Regions from separate parts of the Homo sapiens genome. Here region 1 is linked to region 2. A link means that fine-mapping ties the variant in region 2 to the expression of a gene that starts in the linked region. Tissue or cell type: whole blood. Region 2 holds a variant in brackets; the other region holds the start of a gene. All regions are shown on one strand. Distances are between the middles of the regions.

The links. PIP is the estimated chance that this variant, and not a neighbour inherited with it, causes the effect.
Region 1: it holds the start of GEMIN4, and the variant in region 2 is fine-mapped to the expression of GEMIN4 in whole blood (TOPMed, PIP above 0.99).

The regions. Positions count from the first base shown.
Region 1 is chr17:748,068-756,067 of GRCh38, forward strand. It overlaps GEMIN4 (gem nuclear organelle associated protein 4), which reads right to left and starts at 4,197. Exons shown (of 2, transcript NM_015721.3): 1 at 4,066-4,197. The coding sequence starts at 4,075. It also overlaps the pseudogene DBIL5P. RefSeq lists an enhancer at 3,477-3,536 and silencers at 3,717-4,136, 4,317-4,576.
Region 2 is chr17:684,325-692,324 of GRCh38, forward strand. All of the region lies in intron 4 of VPS53 (VPS53 subunit of GARP complex), which reads right to left. Among named protein-coding and RNA genes, the nearest start is that of VPS53, 27 kb to the right of the region's middle. The variant G/A (reference allele first, on the strand shown) is at 3,514.

The DNA.
Region 1 (8,000 bases), 64 kb after region 2:
AAAATGTTTCCAGATGGCCACTGCTGTTAGTAGGCTGTCATGGTTTGAGATGACAAGGGTTTTAAAGGACATCAGCGGACGGGGAGAAGGGATGACTACAAGAGCCACTGCACAGCTGGAGTCAGAAGGACTTGGCCGAGGAATCCAGAATGGCTTCCGAGCTCTCCAGCCTGGGAACTGGGAGGCCACCAGGTGACATCACATACAGGGAATGGAGGAGAATCAGAGCAGGTGTGAGGAAAGATGAGTTCAGCTTTGGCCATCAAGGTACAGATGTCCTCCAGCAACGGAAATGCCAGGTGGAAGTTCAGGAGGGAAGTAAGCTGGGAAATGTGATTCTGAGAGGTATCTGCCCAGAGGGGATCACCGGAACCAAGACGGTGAATGAGATCCTTCAGGAAAAGTGTGTGAAAAGAAAAAGCTGGGCTGCTGAGGCGAGACCCTCCAGCAAAGGCTGGGCCAGCAGAGGATGTGGGGAGAGGGGTTTAGAAATAGGAGGACAGTACAAACTACAGGGGCCACTGAGCATGTACCACAGGACATGACAGCTGAGCTTCTCATGACAGATGAAGGGAGCATAGCCACAGGGTAATGGGCACAGAGCAATCACACAGCCACAGGGTAACAGGCACAGCAGCAATCACACGGCCACAGGATAATGGGCACAGAGCAATCACACAGCCACAGGGTAATGGGCACAGAGCAATCACACAGCCACAGGGTAATGGGCACAGCAGCAATCACACAGCCACAGGATAATGGGCACAGCAGCAATCACACAGCCACAGGGTAATGGGCACAGAAGCAATCACACGGCTACAGGATAATGGGCACAGAGCAATCACACAGCCACAGGATAATGGGCACAGAGCAATCACACGGCCACAGGATAATGGGCACAGAGCAATCACACGGCCACAGGGTAATGGGCACAGCAGCAATCACACGGCCACAGGGTAATGGGCACAGAGCAATCACACGGCCACAGGATAATGGGCACAGAGCAATCACACGGCCACAGGATAATGGGCACAGAGCAATCACACGGCCACAGGATAATGGGCACAGAGCAATCACACGGCCACAGGGTAATGGGCACAGAGCAATCACACGGCCACAGGGTAATGGGCACAGAGCAATCACACGGCCACAGGATAATGGGCACAGAGCAATCACACGGCCACAGGGTAATGGGCACAGCAGCAATCACACGGCCACAGGGTAATGGGCACAGCAGCAGTCACACGGCCACAGGGTAATGGGCACAGAGCAATCACACGGCCACAGGGTAATGGGCACAGCAGCAATCACACGGCCACAGGATAATGGGCACAGCAGCAATCACACAGCCACAGGGTAATGGGCACAGAAGCAATCACACGGCTACAGGATAATGGGCACAGAGCAATCACACAGCCACAGGATAATGGGCACAGAGCAATCACACAGCCACAGGATAATGGGCACAGCAGCAATCACACAGCCACAAGGTAATGGGCACAGCAGCAATCACACGGCTACAGGGTAATGGGCACAGAGCGATCACACGGCCACAGGATAATGGGCACAGAGCAATCACACAGCCACAGGGTAATGGGCACAGCAGCAATCACGCAGCCACAGGGTAACGGGCACAGCAGCAGTCACACAGCCACAGGGTAATGGGCACAGAGCAATCACATAGCCACAGAGCAATGGGCACAGAAGGAATCAGACAAGCCCTGCCTTCACTCTTTATAAACTTGCCTTGGGAACAGGCTTCAAACATTCTTCTAGCTTTCAGGGAAACGGTCCACCCCACAGCTCCTTCCAGTCAAAAACAAGGTACTCATGGCCCTAGCTCTGTGGGAGAAACCAGGGAGTAGATACAGAAAATACTGTGCTAGATTAAGCCTTCCTTCAGGGAACTAACGATTGACACAGACTTACCATGGAAAACATCTTGGGATGTTTAATCAGACATGGGTTTAAATCCTAGTTCAGCCATTTAAAAATGATGTGATTCTGGCCAGGTTCAGTGGCTAGCACTTGTAATCCCAGCTACTTGGGGGGCTGAGGCAGGTGGATCCCTGAGGCCAGGAGTTCAAGACTAGCTGGGGTAACACAGTGAGACTCCCCCTCCATCTCCGAAAAAAAAAAAGGGATGTGATCTTGGTCAGATTGCTTCTCCAAGCCTTCCTTCTGCATATGTGGGGATAATACAGACTTCATGTTATGCCTTTGGGGATCATGTGATATATACCAGTCAAGCCCTTGCTAGTGGGTTGGCACTGCTATCTCCTGACCCCATCTCCCCGGGACGCTATGATGGATAAATGAGATAGAGCTACAGTAAGAATCCAGTTACAGAGTCTAATTAGGTGCTCAGTAAATGTTGGTTTCCCCAAACCTTTTCATGGTTGGCAAGACCAGAATCTTGTCACTATTCTTTGCCTCCCCCAGCTCAGAAACATCAAAGGATGTAGGTCTTTATCAGGTATGTTTCCTTTGGCCCAGAAACTAAAACGAGGGTGCAAACACTGCTCCCTATTCCTCATTCCTGAGTCATCTCCCCTTTCCCAGGAGTGAGAGATGCTACTCCTTCCTCAGTCTGTCATGCCCCCAAGAGCTCATATTCCCCATTTTCACAGGCCAGACACCAGCAGAGAAAACACTGACTCCAGGAGACTAAGGACCATCTTACCCCTCCCACCATTTATGGGAGCGGCAGCAGGCCAAGGGCTCAGCACTATGTAACCCACTTGTGGAGGCAATCCATCTCATCTCACAGTGGCTGAGACCGACTCCCAGGGAGGGTTACGCTGCGAAGGGGACCTCCCTGGGGGTTACCGCCCTTCTTTCTGGCTCAGGAGGCTCTCCCAGGGTCCCAAAATATAGTCCCTCCTGACGCTGTAAATTTAATTTTATTGCATTATTGGCTTAGTTGAGCAGATGTTTGGCCCTAAACACCTGCCTTCCAGGCGCATTAAGTACGCACAGTTTGAAGTAGTAAGTCCCAGGGCGGTTACTAGCTGGAAAATACTCCGGTACTCTATCATGGATGGTTAACTAGTGCTTGCCACAGCCCGCTTCTTAGGTTTATTAAGCACCTACTCCATGCCAGACACTGTGCTAGGTGGTACACAGGTAAGATCTCTTCTATTCACAATCACCTTTTGAGGACTAGTATTCCTGCTCTAGAGATAAGGACACTGAGGCGCAGAAACGATTTGCTGAGGGTGTCCCAGCCTGAATGTGGTGGGGCTGGGAAGCAATTACGGCTGAGGGGCTCCAAGCCCTTAGAGCTCTGCCATTCCGCTCCTGAAAAGCTGTCTGGGGGCGGGGACCAGACCATTTCCCCCCAGCCTACTACTGCTGACACATCTCGGGGTGCCTCACCCCCAGCTCTCCCAGAACAGCCTCCTGGTCTTAGCAGCGTGTGCCAAGATTTAGCAGGGAGCATCTAGTTCCTATGGGCTCCCTCCCAGACCTTGCCTGTAAGATTCTGAATCCGGACGCACGCAGGTTCACAAAGTGATACCTCAGGAGCGCAGCCGCCCCCACCGCGGGTGTGACCCGCGCAACCCCACAAGGGACACTGTACCTCGGCGATCTCAATGCAAAGTCGCCCAAAACTCAGTGGGGAGACACACTTCCATTCTCCCCGCTCTGTCGATGAGGAAACGTCATGAGCGTAAGACACTTGGAGCGTTAAGACACTTGCTCAAGAACGCAGCTGCCGTTCAGGAAATGAGGCCGTCGGGGCGCCCAGGGGTGCTCGGAGGGAGCCCGTTTCCCAAAGCACGTGCGCGAGCCCCGGGCGCTTCCAAGGGCTCTAACTTCACGTCTGCTCCGTGTTTTCAAGCGCAGGGGGCCGGAGGCGGCAAGACGCGGCCCAACGCGCGGCGGGACCCGGACCACCCCCCGCCAAGGCCACCCCGGGACCCCTAGACCCGCCCCGACGCGGGGGACGTTTCGGTCCGGGCCCGCGCGAGCGTGCGCGACAGGAGGAGACGCGACGGGGCAGCACCGCTCTGGTGGCGCATTGCTGGACGCAGCCCGGGGCCGGGGAGCCGCGGCACCCACCTAGGTCCATGGCGGCGACGCCGGCGGCTGCGCGGGGCTAACGCCCCCTCCCCTCCGAGAACTCGAACGCGGCGCGGGACGCACGGCACGATGGGAGACGCAGGAGCCACGGCGGCCGCGCTTAGGCCTGCTCACAACCTCCGCCCGGCCCCGCCCACAGCCTCCGCCGCGCACGCGCAGTCCTCACGAACGAGCGCGCCAAGCGCACAGCGCCGCCTTCCGGCAGAGCCCTCCCACCAGCCCTCAGGTACCCGGACGTCGCTCACTAGACCCCTCCGCACCGTCCCCTGCCCGGCCCCTCTTCCGGGGTCCCAGCGGGTCGGGCTCATGATTCCCCGGCCCCGCATTCACCCTCACCCGGTAACCCCGGGCGTGCCCCGCACACAGTTCACCCCCACCGAGCGCCTCCCCCGGGACGCCCACCACCCAGCGCGGCCGCACCACGCGAGGCTTCCACTCCCACCCGCCCAGCTCGCGCCACATACAGTCCCTCAACGCGCTCCTGCCGCGCCGCCCCCTCCAGACAGCAGCGTTCCGGATCCTAGACGCTTTTTGACGGCTGGTCCTCCCCAGAAAATGCGCCGTGTGAGCCCAAACATGGTGGGGTTTACGCTGGACCCCGAGCTTGCAATCTGTGCTTGACAAAACACAAACATCGCGTGCCTGTCTCCTCCCCCTGAGATCGAGTAGTAACAGCCACTCCAACTCTCCACCTCCAGCTTCTAGCACCAGGGACCGCCTCCACCACCCCATGTGCCAAGTGGAGTTCGAGCTGCGCGGCCCTCAAGCAGCTGAAGGGTCCCGTGAGCGATCAGGAGAAGCTGCTGGTCTACGGCTTGTACAAACAGGCCACCCAGGGCGACTGCGACATCCCCGGCCCTCCGGCCTCAGACGTGAGAGCCAGGGCCAAGTGGGAGGCTTGGAGCGCGAAAAAAGGGGCGTCCAAGATGGACGCCATGAGGGGCTACGCGGCCAAAGTGGAGGAGCTGACGAAGAAGGAAGTGGGGGGCGTGGAGCGCGAACAAAGGGGCGTGCAAGATGGACGCCATGAGGGGCTACGCGGCCAAAGTGGAGGAGCTGACGAAGAAGGAAGTGGGGGGCGTGGAGCGCGAACAAAGGGGCGTCCAAGATGGACGCCATGAGGGGCTACGCGGCCAAAGTGGAGGAGCTGACGAAGAAGGAAGTGGGGGGCGTGGAGCGCGAACAAAGGGGCGTCCAAGATGGACGCCATGAGGGGCTACGCGGCCAAAGTGGAGGAGCTGACGAAGAAGGAAGTGGGGGGCGTGGAGCGCGAACAAAGGGGCGTCCAAGATGGACGCCATGAGGGGCTACGCGGCCAGAGTGAGGAGATGAGGAAGAAGGAGGCTGGCTGAGGGCTCCTCGGGAATGGAAAGGGCTTCTTAGACCTTGATGGCTGAAATGTCCTGAAACTGTCGCAAGCTTAGCCGAGACATCAATAAATCACTTAAACTGCATGAGAGTGACTGCTGTTGGAAAGGAGAAACTCGGTGACTGAGTGCTGGGGAGGCGTCCAAATACACAGACTAACTTTTTGTATGGTTTTGGGTGGAGTTCCCAGCTCTCCTATTACAAGAGCGTATGTAGGTATTTGGAAGGACGAGGGGGACAGTGTGCTGTGGAAATGCCCAAGATCTGAGGGCAGGAGACCATTCTCCAGTGACAGCCTCTTGGGAGGTTGAGGCCCCAGCCCCTTATCTCTTCAAGGCTGATTTACTAATACCCCAGCACCACAGAGGGGAGAGGGACTCTGTCCTCCTAAACACTAAAGTCAAGTCCAAAAGCCCCCACTGGAACACAGGGCCTACCCGGTTCATGTTTTGAGGGAGACCAAGCTTTCCGTGATGATAATGTGATGAAACAATTGATGCGCCAGAACACAGCAGTTTAGAAACAATGGAGCAGATGGTGTCAAAATCCCAGCCCCAGAAAGGCTCACCTAAGGCCGGGCAACCAAAATGTTCCCGGGACTATTCTGTACTTAACCCTGGTTTCTGCTTAGGGGACGGTGGGACAATATGCATATGGATGTCTATGTGGGATTTGTTGCAAGAGCACAACACACCCCTTGACCTATGCAAGTGCCAGAGTGTCTGAGCCCAGCTTCTACTCCTGTTAATGATCACAGGAGCCTCATACACAACCATTGTGCATGGCGGCTGGAGTATGGAGTAGTAAATGGTATCCAGAAAGGCAGGTCTACGGTGGCATATGGGATTTCCTGGTACTTCTTCTTTAATAGAAACTATCTTCACAGATCATGACATCAGGTCAGCTGCAGTTCTCACTGGGACCAATAAACAATAGAAGCAACAACCATAAAGACTTAAGAGGACAAAGGAAACCAAACCTCACTGTGTGTCTTCAAGATCTGTTCACATAGTTGCAGGAAGTTGCTGTAGACAAAGTACATTACTAAAGAATGAAGCCCACCCAGGACATCACAGCAACGAAAGAACTATTTCTGGTAACTGTGGACCAGGTGAGAGCCACACTGTAGAACAGCAGTGCTGCCCTCTCTTCTTTGGCGAATGTTATGAAGACATTCTGATGCACTTAGGATCATGATTCATGTTAAATGTAAATTAATTGTAAAAATAATACATCTTGCTCCAAAATGTGGTGACAATTTAGAAGCTGTCCACATAGCCAGACCACTCTGTAAATCACAGAACCTAGAAAGTAAAAATGTGCCATAATTAGGACAGCAGAAAGTAACAGTAAAATAAAGTTTTAAAAAAAAAAACAGAAAATAAGGATTTATCTATTTGTATTTGCTTAAGAAGAGGTTACCTATAGGATGCAGGGGGAATGGGATTGATGGGCATGGGGTATACTGTGAAAGGAAAATAAAATCTTGGGACCAAATTCACTAAGCGAAAAGGAAAAGTTAAGCTTGGAAATTGAGTCATGGAATATGCAAAAAACTTCCTTTTGTTCCTAAACAGATAAGCTACAAGACAGAAGGCCACATATCTCCCCAGGTGGTCTCCCTCACCTGACAATATAAATTAACAGCTTATCTTCATAGGTAAGGGACAAAGACAACACCAGAAACCATCCCTCACCAGCCGAGACAAAACATAGATGTACTGAGCTGAATGCATAACTGTTCCTCTGCCTGCTGCTTTCACTGTAACATATAGATTTGGTGAGCAGTAAATGTAGATTTACTGAGCTGAATGCATAACTGTTCCTCTGCCCGCTCCTTTCACTGTAACATGTAGATTTGGTGAGCGCTAAATGTAGATTTACTGAGCTGAATGCATAACTGACTGTTCGTCTGCCCGCTCCTTTCACTGTAACATGTAGATTTGGTGAGCACTAAATGTAGATTTACTGAGCTGAATGCATAACTGAGTGTTCCTCTGCCCGCTCCTTTCACTGTAACATGTAGAGTTGGTGAGCGCTAAATGTAGATTTACTGAGCTGAATGCAAAACTGACTGTTCCTCTGCCTGCTCCTTTCACTGTAACATGTAGATTTGGTGAGTGCTAAATGTAGACTTACTGAGCTGAATGCGTAACTGTTCCTCTGCCCGCTCCTTTCACTGTAACATGTAGATTTGGTGAGCACTAAATGTAGATTTACTGAGCTGAATGCAAAACTGACTGTTCCTCTGCCTGCTCCTTTCACTGTAACATGTAGATTTGGTGAGTGCTAAATGTAGATTTACTGAGCTGAATGCAAAACTGACTGTTCCTCTACCCCCTCCTTTCACTGTGACATGTAGATTTGGTGAGCGCTGATCAAAGCCTAATAAGAATGTAACCACTTATCTCCCTACCTACCCTCCTGTATTTTTCCTTTCCCTCTTCCCTCCCTTCCTGCTCTTTCCCTTTTAAATACTTGTTAGGAATAATGCTCAAAATCCTAAGGAAATAGAACACTCGAACAAAGGATTCTTAGCAAAGCAA
Region 2 (8,000 bases):
AATTCCTGAAACTAATAAGTGAGTTCAGCAAAGCTGCACAATATAAGGTCAATAAATAAAAATCAATTACATTTCCACAACTAGCAAGAGACAACTGGAAATTTAAATTTTAAGAGATACCATTTATAATCATACCAAAAACCACAAAATATTTAGTATAAATCTAGCAAACTATGAGCAAGATCTATATACTAAAAACTAAAACACACTGTTGAGAGAAACTAAAGACCTAAATATATGAAGAAATATTCCATGTTCATAGATTGGAAGATTTAATATTGTAAAGATGTCAATTCTCCTTCAATTGATCTATAGACTCAACGCAATCCCAATCAAAGTCCCAGAGATTTCCTTTTTTTCTTTTCTTAAATCAACAAGTTGGCCGGGCGCGGTGGCTCACACCTGTAATCCCAGCATTTTGGGAGGCCGAGGCGAGTGAATCACCGAGGTCAGGAGTTCGAGACCAGCCTGGCCAACATAATTAAACCCCGTCCCTACTAAAGAATACAAAAAATTAGCCAGGCATGGTGGCTCACGCCTGTAATCCCAGCGACTCGAGAGATTGAGGCAGGAGAATCACTTGAACCTAGGAGGCGGAGGTTGCCGTGGGCCGAGATCGCGCCACTGCACTCCAGCCTGGGCAACAAGAGCTAGATTCTGTTTCCAAAAAAAGGAAAAAAAAAGACTAATAAAGGAAAACAGATCCCAATACCTGTAAAAGTCCTGATGATCTTGGCGTAAAAACTGCCTTGCTTTAGAGATGCAATGAGAGACAGAGAAAACAAAAAGACAGATGTACTCAACACAAACAGCTGGAGTGGAGAAAGCGGGCAGCTTTGAGTCTGAGAGCCAGGAAGGGAAGACTGCAGTTCCAAGAGCCTGGGTCTGGAAACCGGTGTTGAACAGGCAGCAAAGGCTCCCTGCAGTGACCCAGGTGTCAGTTCCTTCTGTTCATTACAATACGGCATCCAAAAATACTTTTCTTCTAAAATAATATACCAACGGCCCTCAACTTGGGATGGTTCAACACAGAATTTTCTTACTACACGATGGTGCAAAGGTGAGAAACATTCTGTAGAAACCATACTTTGGGTACCCATACAACCACTCTGTTTTTCACTTTCTGTACAGTATTCAACAGATCACATGAGCTATTCAACACTTTAGTATAAAATAGGCTCGGTGTTAGATGATTTGCCTGACTGTAGCCTAATGTAAGTGTTCTGAGCAAATAAATTTAAGGCACGGTAGGCTAAGCTATGATGTTCAGTAAATTACATGTATTAATAAATTTTCAACTTAGGATATTTTCAACTTACGATGGGTTTATCAGAATAAGAACTTATTCTTCATTGCAAGTTAAGAAGCATGTGTATGATTGAGAAAAATCTGGAAACAGGTGTGGTGGCTTGCACCTGTAATTCCAGCCACTCAGGAGGCTGAGGCAGGAAGATCGCTTGAGGTAAGGAGTCCAAGACCAGCCAGAGCAATAAAGGAACACCCCATCACTACAAAAAAAAACTTTTTAAATTAAAAAATTAGCCAGACATGGTGACATGCACTTGTAGTCCTACCTACTTGGAAGTCTGAGGTGGGAGGATCGTTTGAGGCCAGGAGTTTGAGACAGTGAGCTATGCACGCCACACTCCAGCCTGGATGACCCTGGAGCGAGACCCTGTCTCTAAAAAAAAAAACAGAGAGAGAAGAGAATTGGCTGGTTGCAGTGGCTCATGCCTGTAATTCCAGCACTCTGGGAAGCGTAGGTGGGAGGATCACCTGAAGCCAGGAGTTCTAAACCAGCCTGGGCAACACAGTGAGATTCCATCTCTACAAAAAGTGTTTTAAAACAGTCAGGCATAGTGGTGTGCACCTGTAGTCCTAGCTACTTGGGAGGCTGAGGTGGAAGGATCACGTGAGCCCAGGAGTTCAAGGCTAGAGTGAGCTACGATCCTGCCATTACATTCCAGCCTGAATGACAGAGTGAGACCCTGTCTCTAAGAAGAAAAAAAAGAAGAATTTGGAAGTTATAAAAACTAGAAATGAAAAAAAATCTATCTGCAGTCTCAAATTTCAAAAACAATACAAATAATAAATTCTGTTGTCAAGTGGAATGTTTATTTTAACTATAGGGTGATATTGCATGTCACGCCAGGCAAACATCTAATGGAGGTCTTGAAGACAGGACAAGAGAAATGAACCTTTGACCACCACTGTTGCCACAGCAGATATTCTGGACCATAGGTAAGCTGTGCCGCCATTTTTATTCACAGAGAACAGCACGCTGAAGGCAGTAAGGGGCCTGGGATAATTCAGAACAAGTAAACCTGGAGTTGCTTTAAAGCACAGCAGTGGGGCTGGAGAGGAGCTGATGGAGCTGACGGAAAAGCCACAGGAACTCGACAAATACCTGGATGCACGGAACTAGGAAAACTGAAATTCCAGTGGACTGTGTATCAGCAGCACTGGTGTTCCTGCCATTTACTAAACATGAGTGAGCCCAACATTGTGCAAAAAAGGTGTTTTAAAATACATTTATTCTAGGCCAGATGTGGTGGCTCATGCCTGTAATCCCAGCACTTTAGGAGGCTGAGGCAGAAGGATTGCTTGAGGCCAGGAGTTTGAGACTAGCCTGGGCAACATAGCGAGACCTCATCTACACAATACTTAAAAATTACATTAGCTGGGCGCAGTGGCTCACGCCTGTAATCCCAGCACTTTGAGAGGCCAAGGTGGGCAGATCACCTGAGATCAGAAGTTCAAGACCAGCCTGGCCAACATGGTGAAACCCTGTCTCTACCAAAAATATAAAAACTAGCCAGGCGTGGTGGTGGTCGCCTGTAATCTCAGCTACTTGGGAGGCTGAGGCAGGGAGAATCACTTGAACCCAGGAGACGGAGGTTGCAGTGAGCAGAGATCGTAACACGGCACTCCAGCCTGGGTGACACAGCAAGACTCCAGCTCAAAAAAAAAAAGCCAGGTGCGGTGGCTCATACCTGTAATCCCAGCACTTTGGGAGGCTGAGGCACGCAGATCATGAGGTCAGAAGATCGAGACCATCCTGGCCAACATGGGGAAACCCCATCTCCACTAAAATACAGAAAATTAGCCGGGCGTGGTGGCACATGCCTGTAGTCCCAGCTACTCAGGAGGCTGAGGCAGGGGAATTGCTTGAACCCAGGAGGCAGAAGCTGCAGTGAGCCAAGATCGCACCAATGCACTCCAGCCTGGAGAGAGAGCAAGACTCAGTCTCAAAAAAAAAAAAAAAAAGATGCGCATGGTGGCATGTGCCTGTGGTCCCAGCTACTCGGGACGCTGAAGTGAGAGGATCACTTGAGCCCACGAGGTTGAGGGCGCAGCGAGCTGTGATTGCACCACTCCACTCTAGCCTGGGCAACAAAGTAAGACCCTGTCTCAAAAACAAATAAATAAATAAGTGGATAAATAAAATAAAGTATATTAATTCTAATCCCCCCTAACCCTGAGGTACGTATTATTATCTCCATGTCACAGATG[G/A]AAAGTTAAATATCTTGTCCAAGGTCACACAGATAACAGCAGAGACAAAATTTAAATTCAAAGCTCAAGTTTTTTTCACTTTACCAAGATGCCATCCAATGTTACATCACTGAAGATATCTAACTACACCAATCCTTAGAGAATTGAAATAAAATGCCCAGTCCTTCACTGTACATAGAGGAGAGAAGATAGCTATTTGGATTCCTTATAGCTTTTCTAAAAATGAGGGATTTTAGAGGATACGTGGCAAAGTGTTCCAAATATGCCGCAGACATGTCTCCCTGCCAAAAAAGCGCTATCAAGGTGATATGATTTGGCTGTGTCCCCACCCAAATCCCTACATGTCATAGGAGGGACCTGGTGGGAAGTCACTGAACCACGGGGTGGTTTCTCCCATTCTATTCACGTGATAGTAAGTTCTCACAAGATCTGATGGTTTTGTAAGAGGCTTCCCCCTTCGCTCAGCTCTCATTCTTCCTCTCTCCTGCCACCTTGTGAAGAAGGATGGGTTTGCTTCCCTTTCCACCATGATTGTAAGTTTCCTGAGGCATCCCCAGCCCTGCAGAAATGTGAGTCAATTAAACCTCTTTCCTTTATAAATTACCCCGTCTAAGGTATTTCTTCATAGCAGTGTGAGAACGGACTAATACACAAGGCTTGTGTGCAATAAACAGGATGAAGAATGGTAGTGAGGCCAAACCCAGTTGCACTACATTGTTAAACAGTTAACGGACATTTTATGAGTCCCCGCCTCAACTACAACCAGTAGCACTCTAGAAGCAGGCAAAATGAACAGTCGCCCGCCCCGCCTCAACTACAACCAGTAGCACTCTAGAAGCAGGCAAAATGAACAGTCACCGGATTCAACTTGACAAAGGCAAGCCAACCTTGACCTCTGCACTAGACGTAAGAAATCCTGGTTGGGAAATGACTGTGAGCCCGAATCAAAACTCTGCCCCTACAAAAGGCTGATCTAACAACCCGACTCCAGGGCTGCCCCACAGATCACGGTGTTCAGGGCACTCCCAGGTCATGTCCAAACCTCAGCAATTCCTGAAGTTTAGTGTTATTTGCAGACATGCTGAAAAGTACAACGCAAAAAATAATAACAGAAAAGAAACAAAAAATGTCCAGCCAATCTTGGCCACTAATGGGAAACTTCGAGGCCATACTCTAAAAGCTCAGTCGCTTTAGCTGTGGTATGTTTTAGTAGGAAGAAGCAAGTAGCAATTGCCATTTTTTTCCAAACTATTTGTGGTCCCTTTAATACTAATACCAATTACTTTCTTCAATTTTTATCAATCAATGGGCTTCATTTTCCTCCCAAGAGAGGATGAGAGAAAGGATCAATTTAAAGTGAGGGAGGATAAGAATATAAAGTCTCCTTCTAGTGAGCTGACAATGACAAATTCAAAATCCCACATAATGAAGATCAATGCCATGCTGGGAAGTCAGTCTTGGAGAGCAGTTATTTTTGTTCTTTTCACTTGAGACAGGGTCCCCAGGCTGCAGTGTAGAGGTGCCATCATAGACTGCTGTAACCTCAAACCCCTGGGCTCACGCAATCCTCCTACCTCAAACTCCTGAGTAGCCAAGACTATAGGTTTGTGCCACCATGCTGGACTAATTTTTTTTTTTTTTTTTTTTTTTTTTTGAGATGGAGTCTCACTCTGTCACCAAGGCTGGAGTGCAGTGGCACCATCTCAGCTCACTGCAACCTCCACTTCCTAGGTTCAAGTGATTCTCCAGCCTCAGCCTCGTGAGTAGCTGGGACTACAGGCACGCACCACTGCATCTGGCTAATTTTTGTATTTTTAGTAAAGCCCAGGTTTCCCCATGTTGGCCAGGCTGGTCTTAAACTCCTGATCTCAGGCGATCCGCCCACCTCCGCCTCCCAAAGTGTTGGGATTACAGGCGTAAGCTACCAAGCCCGGCCTATTTTCGTTCTAATGCTTGAATTGCATAATATGCTAATTTTGAGGAAGAAAAGCAAGGAACACTTTCTCCTTGGAAGGCAATGTACTTTGCTGCTTTAGTTCATAATCTTTATGATATCTCTATGTAAAAGTGAAGAAGGCAAGTATTAACAGCCTCCTTTTTTGGTGAAAATCAAGACATGGGAAGATGAAGAAACAGCCCCGGACGACACACACAGACAGGTAGAAATCCTGTTTTTTGGGTCTGGCACTTTGCGCTGAAGTGAGGAGGAAGAACAGGAAGCCTCTGACGGCACGTCACACGGCTCTGAATCCACTCCATTCTGCCTTTTCATCTACAACTTGAATGAAGACACAGAAGGCATGTCTGGCAAATCTGCTAATGATAAAGTGGGGAGGTCATCAAGGCTCCCAAAGATCTTGATGGGATAAACAATCGAGCAGAACTAGTGGGATGAAACGAAAGCTGAGACACACACGGTCTGACAATTTCAAAGACTCTCTTGCACAAACAGAGGTGGAGAAAGTTTAAATGAAAGTCATATGAAGAAAGACCTGGGACAGTACTGGCCCACAGATGTGTTTTGTTTGCCCTTTGCAGTGTTTGTGAAAAACACTAAGCCAATAGTTAAAAATTGTGAGAGTTACATGAAAATCCGGATTTCCGGCTGCTCTTGAAAAACTGATAGATCTGGCAATTCCAGGTCTGCGTTCAGACGTGACAACAGCTGATTAGAATTCACTTGTGACTATCCCCTTAGGACCTGGTGGATGCATGTGGACACACACCAGCCTGCTTACGCCGCTTAGGTTACTTTCCCAGCTCTGCGGACATCTGTTTGCGACTCTTGACCTGGGGGTTTCAGGTGACTGCCAACTCAGTAGAAGCCAACCATGTAATACGGCTGCCAAAAATCTCAGCAAATCCAAGGTAATGGAAGAATAGTGTCTAAAATAAAAAATCTCAGCAAATCCAAGGTAATGGAAGAACAATGTCTACAATCAAAAATCTCAGCAAATCCAAGGTAATGGAAGAACAGTGTCTAAAATCGGTGGCCCTTAAGTTTTGAAGAGTCACAGACTCCTTAGAAAATCTAGAAAAATCAATAAGTTTTCCTCCCATAAATATGTCTAGACATACAAAAATTTACAGTTAATTTCAGGGACTTGACAGACACTCTGGACCCCCAGTCCCTAAGTTAATGAGCTCGGCCCAGAACAAAGAGGTCAACTGTCTCAGTGTATATGTTGACACAGCATGTCCACTCCTGGGAACCACATTTTAAGAGGGATGCTGACAAACAGCTATCAAGAGCAAGGATGATAAAGGGTCTGGAAATTGCATTATAAAGATGAAGAAACTAAGAATGGTTAGCCTAGAAAAGGGAACACTTAGGAACATAATATCCATTTTCAATTTCAGAAGCTGTAGTAAGGAAAAGGGATTAGGCTTACACCCATCCAGCTGGCAGAACTAAGATCAACAAGAAGTTACAATGAAGTCTATTTCACTGTTTCAGTTCAGTCTAAGAAAGGAGTTTCTCACAACTAAAGCTATAAAACTGAACTAGTCTGTCCTGTGGACCAACAAAGTAGCAAGCTCCCCATCACTGAAAGTAGCCAAGCTTCTGCAAGATAATGAAACGTCAGAGATGTAATACAAAGGACTCCTGAACTGGGTGGAAGATTGTACTACAATTACCTAATCCTTCTTCCAAAGCGAAGGAGTGAGCAATACAGCACCCCCTCCTTATCAGCAGTTCACTTTCTGAGGTTTTAGCCACCTGTAGTTGACTGTGGTCCAAAAATATTACATGGAAAATTCCAGAAACAGACAATTAGTAAATTTTAAATTATGCGCCATTCTGAGTAGTGTGATAAAATCTTGCACCACCCAATTCTGTCCTGACCAGGTCACGAATCATTCCTTCACCCAGTATATCCATGCTGAATACAGCACCTATTAGTCACTTAGCAGCCATCTCGGCTATTACATACAGCTCCAAATCACAAGAGGAGTGATGCTGGCATACTGTCATAATTGTGCTATTTTATTTTTAGTTATTGTGGTGAATCTCTTACTGTGCCTAATTTGCATGCTAAAGTTTATCACAGGTATGTATACATAGGAAAAAATACGGCATATATAGGGTTTGCTACTCTCTGGGTTTCAGGCATCCACTGGGGGTCTTGGAATGTATCCCCCACAGGTAAGTGGGGACGACTTGTAATAATTCTCTTCTCCTCCCAAACCTTACTCTTGTTCTGATCAAAGAAATGGCTACATTGCAGCCAGGCTCCATTGAAGAGACAGAAACTCGGTGGCTGATCCTCTCCTGTGAGTCTGAGAGCTTACTGACGACCGGTCAACGTTGGCCACTCTTGAAACTTCCCACTGCCGGCTTTTTCTTCCTCTAACCCGCCCCTCTATTCACCTCTCTTTCACCTACGTTCAAGCCATCCATTTTAATTCTTGGGAAGCTGCAAAAATTTCATAGCATACCACATCATGTACTTGTTGAATTGACTCATCCACAAAGTTTTAAACGT